Linked DNA regions of Homo sapiens. The protein of the gene in region 2 purifies or fractionates together with the protein of the main gene of each other region. This does not show direct contact. Each region holds a gene or a part of one and is shown on either strand. Other genes may lie near its edges.

Region 1 (3,600 bases), on a different chromosome or scaffold from region 2:
CAGTGGGCTTAAAATATTCAGTAAACCATGCTATGAACAGTTGTGCTGTCATCCAGGCTTTGTTGTTCTACTTACAGAGCACAGGCAGATTATATTTAGCGTAATTCTTAAGAGACCTAAGATTTTTATAATAGAATGGTAAACAAGCACTGGCTTCAATCCAAAGTCACTAGCTGCATTAGCCTCTAACAAAAGAGTGAGCTTGGCCTTTGAGGCCAGACATTGACCTCTCTAGCTATGAAAGTCCTTGATGGCGTCTTCTTCCAATAGAAGGCTGTTTTGTCTACATTGACTACTTGCTGTTCAGTGGCCACCTTCATCAACGATCTTACCTAGATCTTGGGGATAACTTGCTGCAGCTTCTCCATCAGCATTTGCTGCCTCATCTTACACTTTCATGTTCTGGAGACGGCTTCTTTCCTTAAACCTCATGAAATAATCTCTTCTAGCTTCAAACTTCTATAGCTTCCTCACCTCTCTCAGTCATCATAGAATAGAAGAGAATCAGGGCCTTGCTTTGGATTCGGTTTTGGGTTTAGGGGATGCTGTAGCCGGTTTTATTTTCTATCCAAACCACTAAAATTTTCTCCAAATCAGCAATAAACTGTTTCGCTTTCATATCATTCATGTGTTCATTAGAGTAAAATGTTTAATTTCCTTCAGTAACTTTTCCTTTGCATTCACAAACTGGCTAACTTTTTGGTGCAAACTTTCAGCCTAGCTTTCAGCCTATCTTGCCTTTTGACATCCCTTCCTCACTAAGCTTAACCATTTCTAGCTTTTGAGTTAAAGTGAGAGATGTGCGACTCTTTCTTTCACTTGAACACTTAGAGGCCCATTGTAGGGTTATTAATTGACCTAATTTCAACACTGTTGTGTCTCAGGGAATAGAGACCCAAGGAAAGGGAGAGAGAAGGAAGAACGGCCTGTCAGTGGATTAGTCTGAACACACACAACATTTATCAATTACGTTTGTATCTTATATGGGCACAGCTCATGGCGCCCCAAAACAATTACAATACAAGGAACACTCATCACACGTCACCCTTGTAGCAGAGCACATCTCCCTATGATCTAGGTACGAGCATTGTACCTAGGATGGACGCGTTCGTCCTCTTACCTTCGGGAACGCCCTACTCTGTCTACGGAGTAAAGTACTTAATAAACTTGCTTTTGCTTTGCTATGCGGACTCACCCTGAATTCTTTCCTGTGCAAGATCCAAGAACCCTCTCTTGGGGTCTGGATCGAGACCCCTTTCCGGTAACGAAACTACACTAAGAATACAAGAAAACTTACGTTACTGTGCGGGAGCTGACAAAGTCTCTCGCCGGAGGGAGCACACAGAATTTCACCTTCTCCGGCCTTTTCCCAAGCTGGCAGGAGTAAAGCTGTAAGAGGAGGTGCCAGCGCCCCAAGCCAGCTCTCCCGCCGGCACTGCTGCGGTCCGCGAGGCAGCCAATCAGGTAGCTGAGTTTGCCATAGGGGCGGGACTTCCTCCCCAGCGCGCACGAGTACGTGCGTGGAGGTCCCGCCCCGGAACTGCAGTTGCTGCTGCAGCTGAGGTACAGCGGCGGTTTCTGAGGTTCTTCACTCGCGACTGACGGAGCTGCGGTGGCGTCTCCACACGGTGAGTACCAAAACGAGCGGGGTTGGAGCCGACTCTGGAGAGGGGCTGAGGCCAGGAACCCGGGTTCCTATCGCGGGTCGCTCTGGGCCGGTGGGTTCCCGGGTCCAGAGAGGGCGGCCGCCGGCCCAAGCCGTCCAACCGAGCTGCGTGCCACGGTCCCCGCGCCTTGGGCTCCTTGTCCGGTCATCAGAGCCTGACGGCCTTGGCTTCTCGGCTTCTCGGTTTCTCGGTTTCGTGCGCGCGTTCGTGCCTGAGACAAAGCGAGAGGGCCGCGCGGGACCGGCGTCACGAGGAGACAGAGGCCCTTCTACTCTGCCTGGCGCTCTCCGTGTCCTCGCCCGGTTCGCGTGGCACCCCTCGCCCTCTCCTTGTTGAACCCCGCGTGTTTCTTTGTGTTTTTTTTTGTTTGTTTTTTGTTTTTTTGCCGTGGCGCAGCGGGTCCGGCGGGCACTGTGTGCGAACGTGCTCTCCTCGCCGGGCGCCATGCTCAGCGGTTTTTTTTGACGTGCGTCACTTTTTCGTAGTGGCGTATAAGGATTCTGTGGGACAGATGTCCTCGTTTTTCCCATTGTGCAGACTGGGAAATAAGAGACTCAGAGATTAATACGTCCACCGCAGAGCCACAGCTGACAAGTGGTGGATCTGGATTTGAACCAAAGTTTACCTTGGTCTTTTTCACGGAATCTGTTATCTTTCTTGGCCTTTCTGAAAAGGAAAAACCTGGATCGAGTTCCACCCAAACGAGTTGGGCCTAAATGGCCATTAAGCCACTTAAAATATGATGAAGAAACTGGATGGGTTTTAAGACGCTTGGCAAAGGAAAGGATGGTGGAGCAGGCATTTGCTCTCTCAGGCAAGGCTTGAGAAGGAAGCAAGCGCAGTACGCTTTTAATAAAGCTCACCCCTCCTGCCCCCACAAGAAAAACCCCTGAGATTCTTACTCTGCCTTCAGAACGACTTAGGTGTGGCAGGTTTCATCCTCCGTGCTTTACATAATTTTCTTTATTTACATAAAATGTACAACTTAGATATTGTTAGGTACCCTCCCCCCTTTTTATAGATGAGAGCACTGAAGTTCAGAGAGGAGTGGGTGGCACTATCCAAGGTCACACAGGCAGTAAGTGTTGGATTTGGAATTCAAACCAGGTCTAGCTCATATGTCTTTGTTCCATCACATGTGTACCCTGTGTTCCAGGCAAAGCTGTCTGTTCTGTGGTATTCTTTGTTCTTCTCTAGGTGGGAGCAACTGTGTGATAGCCATCTTTGTATCCTCAGTTCTTTGTAGGGCCTAGTTGCTTAGAAAATATTTGTTACATCAGAACCCTCTGCTTCTCAGACACCAACCTAATAGAACATGTATCTCCTTTTCAGCAACCATGAAGTTGAAGGACACAAAATCAAGGCCAAAGCAGTCAAGCTGTGGCAAATTTCAGACAAAGGGAATCAAAGTTGTGGGAAAATGGAAGGAAGTGAAGATTGACCCAAATATGTTTGCAGATGGACAGATGGATGACTTGGTGTGCTTTGAGGAATTGACAGATTACCAGTTGGTCTCCCCTGCCAAGAATCCCTCCAGTCTCTTCTCAAAGGAAGCACCCAAGAGAAAGGCACAAGCTGTTTCAGAAGAAGAGGAGGAGGAGGAGGGAAAGTCTAGCTCACCAAAGAAAAAGATCAAGTTGAAGAAAAGTAAAAATGTAGCAACTGAAGGAACCAGTACCCAGAAAGAATTTGAAGTGAAAGATCCTGAGCTGGAGGCCCAGGGAGATGACATGGTTTGTGATGATCCGGAGGCTGGGGAGATGACATCAGAAAACCTGGTCCAAACTGCTCCAAAAAAGAAGAAAAATAAAGGGAAAAAAGGGTTGGAGCCTTCTCAGAGCACTGCTGCCAAGGTGCCCAAAAAAGCGAAGACATGGATTCCTGAAGTTCATGATCAGAAAGCAGATGTGTCAGCTTGGAAGGACCTGTTTGT
Region 2 (3,945 bases):
CAGTCTCAAAAAAAAGAAAACTGAATTTGTGAATTTAATTCCCTAATTAAAGAAGTTGAAGAGCACTGGGAAGGGTACAAAAGGGACCTCAATTCTACCTACAATCTATCTTTACGACAACTAACAGATGATGGATGTGCACCCTATCCCCCACATGCTAAATCAAATAGGTGTCTATGGCTACAACCAATTAAAGTTTATGTGCGGGGAAAGAAAAGAAAGTGGGTCACTCCTCCACTATTGAAACAAGCTATGTAAAGCGTTTTCTCATTAGAAGGCAGGTATGACACAAATAGTAATTATACTTATATAGTGTTTATTGTGTACCAAGCAATCCTCTAAAGACTTTATATTTAACCTTTGACTAAATACTCCCAGGAAGTTTTACTTATATTTAACAGATCACAACACTGAAACATGGTAAGGTCATATCACTCTAACTAGTAAGGTGTAGAGCCTGACCCCAAACCTCAGCAGTCCAACTCCAGAGTCCTCACCTTTAACTATTCACTATATAAACCTTTGCTATTATAAGGATGCTTGTACCAAAGGCTAACACAAGAAAATGTATAAACCTGGGCCTCATACTAAAGCTCATTTACCAGGACTGTCAATTTAATGTAAGGATTTGGAGAAATGTAAAAAACAAACTTTTACAATAATACTGATTTTGCTCCTGTAGCTGTTTCAGATTCTAAACCTCCTCCACTCTCCTTTTTGGAATGAAATCTGATAAGCAATAATGTATGCGTGAACGTGCTCTTTAATGTCAAGGATAATACACATTTGAAAAACAAAACATTAAATCCAACTGCAAAAATCTTACCCTTTTACTTCTGGACAGCCTGAACCGTGTCACAGTGCCAAACTGGGAGAAATATGAAAAGATCTGGGTTTCGTCAAGTAGGTTAGGTAGGTGGCGCACATAGACTACTCCAGGAGTAAGTTGTTCTTGTTTTTTTCGCTAAAGACGTAAAGACCAGGTAAATTAAATATATAAATAAGAAAATCACATTGTAACAAAACCCCTAGCCCTCGGCCCAAGAACCTATTCTGCATTTCCACTTACCACAGTAGTAATTAAAGAACTGGCTGTTTAGTGTTTCTCTCCCCACAAAGGCCATGGTCAAGCAGTAGTCAACTATCTTTCCAGCCTGGCATCCCAGCACCCAGTATAATATTAGAGCTCAATAACTATGTCAATCAACGGATAAGCAAGGACATCTTTGAACAAGCCATTTTAGATCTTCTGCCCAGAGAACTCTACATAAACGTAGGCTTCAATTTGGTATGCATATTACTGTTTACTCGCACTTCATCGAAAAATTTTCGATACGCTTGTTAACTCTCACGGTACAGATTAGCCTTTCAACGTCTCAGTCATCATAGCCTTACCTCTGTAACAGGAACTTCTAAGTTTTCCTGTGTATTTTATGCTAAAAACCACAGAAAGTATAAGCGATGTCAGGGGCCCTAGTCAGCAAGTGGAACCTGGCAAATACTCTATTTTAATAACTCCCAGATCACCAACCCGGCATACAAACTTCCCGAATGTGTTAAGTCTGGGGCTCCCATTTTTGGGGGAAACGCGGAAGCGTGACAGCTCTAACCCGGAGATAACCTGTGGTATAGGAGCCTATTCCCTCCAGCTGGTTCTTTCTACTGCTTCTGTCACCCCAATACTTCCCCGTTACCCTCCACATGAAGGCTCCAGGGCCTCAGCGGCCAAACCCCTCCATCATTTACCGAACAGCGTAAACCCTTTCGTCTCGGAAACCGTGGCCTGCAAGCTTAAGAGGTCGGTCCCTGATTCGGTCGAATCCACTTGGGAGACCCTGGAGGTAATGAAGGCGAGCACGAAGGCAAGGGGCGCCCGGGCCGGAAACCGTGCAACCCCAGATACCCTCTAGACCCGGTCCATCGCCCCCGCTCGCAGCCTGGGCCAGGGTGCCTGCTCACCTGGGTTATGCGCTTGCGAACCTGCGCCACCTCCTTTTGAAACTCGACATCTTCCTGCGGATTAAGCGACAGGATTGGCCCAGCCGGGCCAGAAAAAGTCGCCATGCCAAAAGCCGCCGACGCTAACCACGCGGCGCTCCCGGAAACGTCGGGCTCCCAGCTCCCCCGAGGCGGAAGTAGAGGCAGGACAGGGGCGGGGCGAAGCGCTAAGGCGAGGCGAGGCGTGGCGAGGGGCGGGGAGGGCCATGAGTCGGGCGCGGGGTTGGAGCAGGAGTTGCCCGGAGAAGCGGGGGCGGGGCACGGGGTGTGGCGAGGCGCGGGGCGGGGCATAAATTGCGCCAGGGGCGAGGGCGGGGCACGAGGTCGTGCCGAGAGACTGGGAGAGGCGTGAGTCGCGCGGAGGCGCGACATGGGGCGTGACGAGGAGCGGAGGGCGGGGCGTGAGTAGCGCCGAGGCGCGGAGGCGGGGCGCAGGGGCGTGCCGAGGCGCGGCAGCGGGGTCTGGGGCTGGGGCTGGGCCGTGGGGAGCTCCCGCACCCTCGGCTGTCGGGGCGCCGGCTGGCTTCGCTTAAGAGTGCCTGAAACAATTACGTTCACGCCTACTTTCAAAAAAGGTCTAAAATAAATTCCAAAACAGTACCTGTGTCCTTGAGATGCTGCTCTCATTCCTCAATTTGCTTATTATTATTATTATTTTTTTTTGAGACAGAGTTTCGCTTTGGTTGCCCAGGCTGGAGTGCAATGGCGCAATCTCGGCTCACTGCAACTTCCAACTTCCGCCTCCCGGGTTCAAGCGATTCTCCTGCCTCAGTCTTCCGAGTAGCTGATTACAGGCGCCCGCCACCACTCCCAGCTTAATTTGTACGTTACCACTCCCAGCTTAATTTGTATGTTTAGTAGAAACGGGGTTTCACCATGTTGGCCAGGCTGGTCTCGAACTCCTGACCTCAGGTGATCCACCCGCCTCAGCCTCCCAAAGTACTGGGATAACAGGCGTGAGCCACCGCGCCCGGCCCTAATTTGGTTATTCTTTCACTCACTTGTGTGTGAGCTCTCCTGTGTGGCCCCGTCCGTCCGCGGCCCTTGGAGAACTTACAGCCTGAGGGCAGCATGGCTGCTTTAAGAGACCAAAGAGGCTTGTGGGGGAGAGGCACACTGGGTGGCGCCGGAGGGTCCCCCTTAGGAGGTGGCGTTAGCACCGAGGCCTGAAGGCTAAAGAGCGGGGTGTGGAGAACCGAGCGCCTGCCGTCCGCTGGACCGGACAGGCCTGCACAGTGTTCCTAGGTCTAGAAAGAAGGACGCGGCAGTGGGGTTGGAGCCCAGCACAGGAGGGAAGAGCTGCGAGGCGGCAGGCTGGAGCCCCATGACTGTGTGTCAAAGTATGAAACTGGGGTTTTGTAAATGCGAGGGGATGGGCGGGTTTAAAGCGAGGCTGTGGCTGTTTGCATCTTTCTTTTCTTTTTTTTTTTTTGAGACGGAGTCTCGTTCTGTCGTCCAGGCTGGAGTGCAGTGGCGCGATTTTGGCTCACTCACTGCAACCTCCGCCTCCTGGGTTCAAGCAATTCTCCTTCCTCAGCCTCCCGACTAGCTGGGACTACAGGTGCACACCACTACTCCCGGCTAATTTTTGTATTTTTAGTAGAAACGAGGTTTCGCCATTTTGGCCAGGCTGGTCGAGAACCCCTGACCTTAAGTGATCTACCCGCCTCGGCCTCCCAAAGTGCTGGGATTACAGGCGTGAGCCACCGCACCCGGCCTGTTTGTACCTTTCAAATACTATTATACTAGTGAGTAACTGAGTGGAGAGGAAGGGTGGGGAGTGGATTGCCGAGGAAGCAGGGAGGTGAGGCGAGAGCGACAGATCAAGCACAGCTGGTGTCAGGGGATAGCTGCGGCCGTGTTCTGGAAGCCGTGAAGGCGGCCCAGGGTGTGTGTGCCCGAAGAGTGGCCTGTGGGCCTGAGGTGGAGGCCCTGGGAGGGAGTGCC
Region 3 (3,600 bases), on a different chromosome or scaffold from region 2:
GGCAAATCCCAAAGGTTTAAGGCTCAAGGCAGTTAGCTAATATGGTCTTTGACCTAGCCTTGGCTACATGGGATGACTGATGTTAAAGCCTTGATGCTGAATGTTAAAGTAGGTTCAAGGGGAAAAAAAAAACAGCAAATTCTAAAATGCTTCTGGATGAGAAAGGCTAGCACAATGCTGAAACTAAACTGAGTCTATTTGCTAATTGCTATTAAGTTAATTTCATTGGTTAATTCTCCAGCATAACCCCCTCTAGGATAAACCTGGCCCCCAGTGAAAGGAAGATAAACCCTGTAAACCACGCAATCAACAGTGCCTCTGATACTCAAATGTACATCCTAGTCACCTACAGATCTTATTAAAATAAAGGTTCTGATAAATTACATCTAGAGTGAGGCCTGACGTTCTGCATTTCCAACAAGCTCCCAGGGGATATTATGCTGCTGGTATGCAGACCACACTTTAATGAGTATCAAGAGCTTGGACGACATTGCAGAGAATAGATCTACAGACTTAAAACCAGAGTTAAGATATCTCTTGTTCTTATATTCCCTAACTGCATAACTTTAGATAAGTCATTTCACCTCTCTGAGCCCTCCTTGTTTCATCTGTGAAAATAATATAGTTAATACAATAATTAATAACATAGTTAATACTAATAGCTAACACATACTGAGTTCTTACCATGTAGCAGTAACTAATGTTTTATGTTTGTCAATTTATAAATAAGGCTTAGATCAAACATCCTCTCCAAGTAATGGTGACCTGATACCTGATTGTAGGCCGTTTGACTCATACTTAACACCATGTAGCACTTACCTCCCAGAGCCTATGAAAATGAAATAATAATCGGTATTTGGCTAATTTGTACTGAGTACTCATACGCTCCAGGCCCTCGTCTAACCCTCCCTTGGACGATATTAACTCATTTATCTTATAACCACCCTAGGAAGTATTATTATCATTATCTCGCAGGCCTTAAAACGGCCTCAACAAGTAAAATTGCTGAAGGACCAACAGTGGCACAGTCAGGATTGGAACCCAGGCAGTGTAACTGCAGAGCGTGGCTTAGTTTCAGCACTGTACTAGATTAATTGAACTAGACTAGGTTCTGTAACTGCAGAATCCCGGATCTCCGAGTCAGCTAGCTCACTAGGGTCGGTGCACACCCGCGCCCACTCGGGGTGGCTTCATTGCCAGAGCCACTGACTCCCAAAACAAAACGAATCTTCTACAATTAGCTCTATGTGTATCTTTGGGATGTTATCTTTCTCGGGCCACAACTAGGAACCCTGAAAGCCGACTATGACTCCAGTGAAACTATTTGGCCCTAAGAAGGGTGATTGTCTAAACATCTTCACAACGGATTTACACTGAAATTGTAACACGCACTTGATTGGAACCCCACACCACAGGCAGTCCCAGGAATTTGTACCCGCCCCGGTCCCGGACCGCGCCCCTGGACAAACCCTCCGGCCCGCCCCTCCGGATTGAGCCCCAAGACTGTCCCCGGACCACCATCCTAAGACCACTCCCTGAACTGCCCCCCCCAAGACCGCCCCCTAGATCGCCCCCCGGGACCGCCCTCTCTAGACCGCCTGCGAGACTGTCCCCGGACCGCCCCCTGGACCACCCCCTAGGCGGCCCCCCGAGCTGTCCCTGGACCGCCCTCTAGACCGCCTCCCGCCCCCTGCATCCTGGGAATCGTAGTCCCAATCCTGCTCTGGAACTAGCAGTGCGGCCTGCTCGGGCCAGCTCCGCCTCTATCTGGCGCCAGCCTAAAGGTCCCGCTTCTAATCCCATCATCTCTCCATACCGCCCTCTGCCGGCCTTTCCTCTGGTCGCCCGGATTGCGAGCCGCTTCCGGACGCTCCGGAAGCGAACCTTTCTTTTCCGGATTGGGCATCCCGGCATCTGCACGTGGTTATGCTGCCGGAGTTTGGGCCGCCACTGTAGGAAAAGTAACTTCAGCTGCAGCCCCAAAGCGAGTGAGCCGAGCCGGAGCCATGGAGGGCCAGAGCGTGGAGGAGCTGCTCGCAAAGGCAGAGCAGGACGAGGCAGAGAAGTTGCAACGCATCACGGTGCACAAGGAGCTGGAGCTGCAGTTTGACCTGGGCAACCTGCTGGCGTCGGACCGGAACCCCCCGACCGGGCTGCGGTGCGCCGGACCCACGCCGGAGGCCGAGCTACAGGCCCTGGCGCGGGACAACACGCAACTGCTCATCAACCAGCTGTGGCAGCTGCCCACGGAGCGCGTGGAAGAGGCGATAGTGGCGCGGCTGCCGGAGCCCACCACACGCCTGCCGCGAGAGAAGCCTCTGCCCCGACCGCGGCCACTTACACGCTGGCAGCAGTTCGCGCGCCTCAAGGGCATCCGTCCCAAGAAGAAGACCAACCTGGTGTGGGACGAGGTGAGTGGCCAGTGGCGGCGGCGCTGGGGCTACCAGCGCGCCCGGGACGACACCAAAGAATGGCTGATTGAGGTGCCCGGCAATGCCGACCCCTTGGAGGACCAGTTCGCCAAGCGGATTCAGGCCAAGAAGGAAAGGGTGGCCAAGAACGAGCTGAACCGGCTGCGTAACCTGGCCCGCGCGCACAAGATGCAGCTGCCCAGCGCGGCCGGCTTGCACCCTACCGGACACCAGAGTAAGGAGGAGCTGGGCCGCGCCATGCAAGTGGCCAAGGTCTCCACCGCCTCTGTGGGGCGCTTTCAGGAGCGCCTCCCCAAGGAGAAGGTGCCCCGGGGCTCCGGCAAGAAAAGGAAGTTTCAACCCCTTTTCGGGGACTTTGCAGCCGAGAAAAAGAACCAGTTGGAGCTGCTTCGTGTCATGAACAGCAAGAAGCCTCAGCTGGATGTGACTAGGGCCACCAATAAGCAGATGAGGGAGGAGGACCAGGAGGAGGCCGCCAAGAGGAGGAAAATGAGCCAGAAGGGCAAGAGAAAGGGAGGCCGGCAGGGGCCTGGGGGCAAGAGGAAAGGGGGCCCGCCCAGCCAGGGAGGGAAGAGGAAAGGGGGCTTGGGAGGCAAGATGAATTCTGGGCCGCCTGGCTTGGGTGGCAAGAGAAAAGGAGGACAGCGCCCAGGAGGAAAGAGGAGGAAGTAATAGTTTCTAACTGTCGGACCCGTCTGTAAACCAAGGACTATGAATACTAAATGTTAAGTTCTAGGCAATTATACGGGGACTCAGAAGGACCTGGCCGCTGCCTTCATTGAGTTTAAAGGGACAGGATTGCCCTTCCGTCAAGAAAGTATGTAAGTGTTGGACTGCACAAATTAATGTTTTTCCCACAACCGAGACTTTGGAGATTAAGAACTTATTTGAGGATTTAAGAATTAGGGAAATAATTTGGTGGAAACCGGGAATGAGTTCTATTCTTAAACAGCCTTTTTTTTTCTTTTTAATGTTGGATATACGGCGAGGTAGAGTTGGCCATATTTCAGAGACTTAGATTGACGTATATGTTTCTGCATTATTTTTACAACAAGTTTGTGTATCAGAGCGGGAGTGCGGGGGAGGGAAAGAAAACAAACAGTTTCAGAATTGAATAGGCAAGTGACTGTTTTAAAGATTAAGTAATAAAGATGTCTTATCTAGTGTG

What was found.
Region 1: the proteins of NIFK (region 2) and DDX24 purify together in Homo sapiens (affinity purification with mass spectrometry; 5 studies listed by BioGRID and IntAct, with this or other methods). This does not show direct contact.
Region 3: the proteins of NIFK (region 2) and RRS1 purify together in Homo sapiens (affinity purification with mass spectrometry; 5 studies listed by BioGRID and IntAct, with this or other methods). This does not show direct contact.

Annotation. Positions count from the first base shown.
Region 1 is NC_000014.9:94,079,147-94,082,746, reverse strand, and holds the start of DDX24 (ATP-dependent RNA helicase DDX24), read left to right. Parts: upstream 1-1,544; 5' UTR 1,545-1,628; intron 1,629-2,999; 5' UTR 3,000-3,004; coding exon 3,005-3,600. UniProt on the Homo sapiens protein: ATP-dependent RNA helicase that plays a role in various aspects of RNA metabolism including pre-mRNA splicing and is thereby involved in different biological processes such as cell cycle regulation or innate immunity.
Region 2 is NC_000002.12:121,734,787-121,738,731, forward strand, and holds the start of NIFK (MKI67 FHA domain-interacting nucleolar phosphoprotein), read right to left. Parts: upstream 2,090-3,945; 5' UTR 2,065-2,089; coding exon 1,960-2,064; intron 965-1,959; coding exon 827-964; intron 1-826.
Region 3 is NC_000008.11:66,427,126-66,430,725, forward strand, and holds the start of RRS1 (ribosome biogenesis regulatory protein homolog), read left to right. Parts: upstream 1-1,888; 5' UTR 1,889-2,006; coding exon 2,007-3,104; 3' UTR 3,105-3,600. UniProt on the Homo sapiens protein: Involved in ribosomal large subunit assembly. May regulate the localization of the 5S RNP/5S ribonucleoprotein particle to the nucleolus.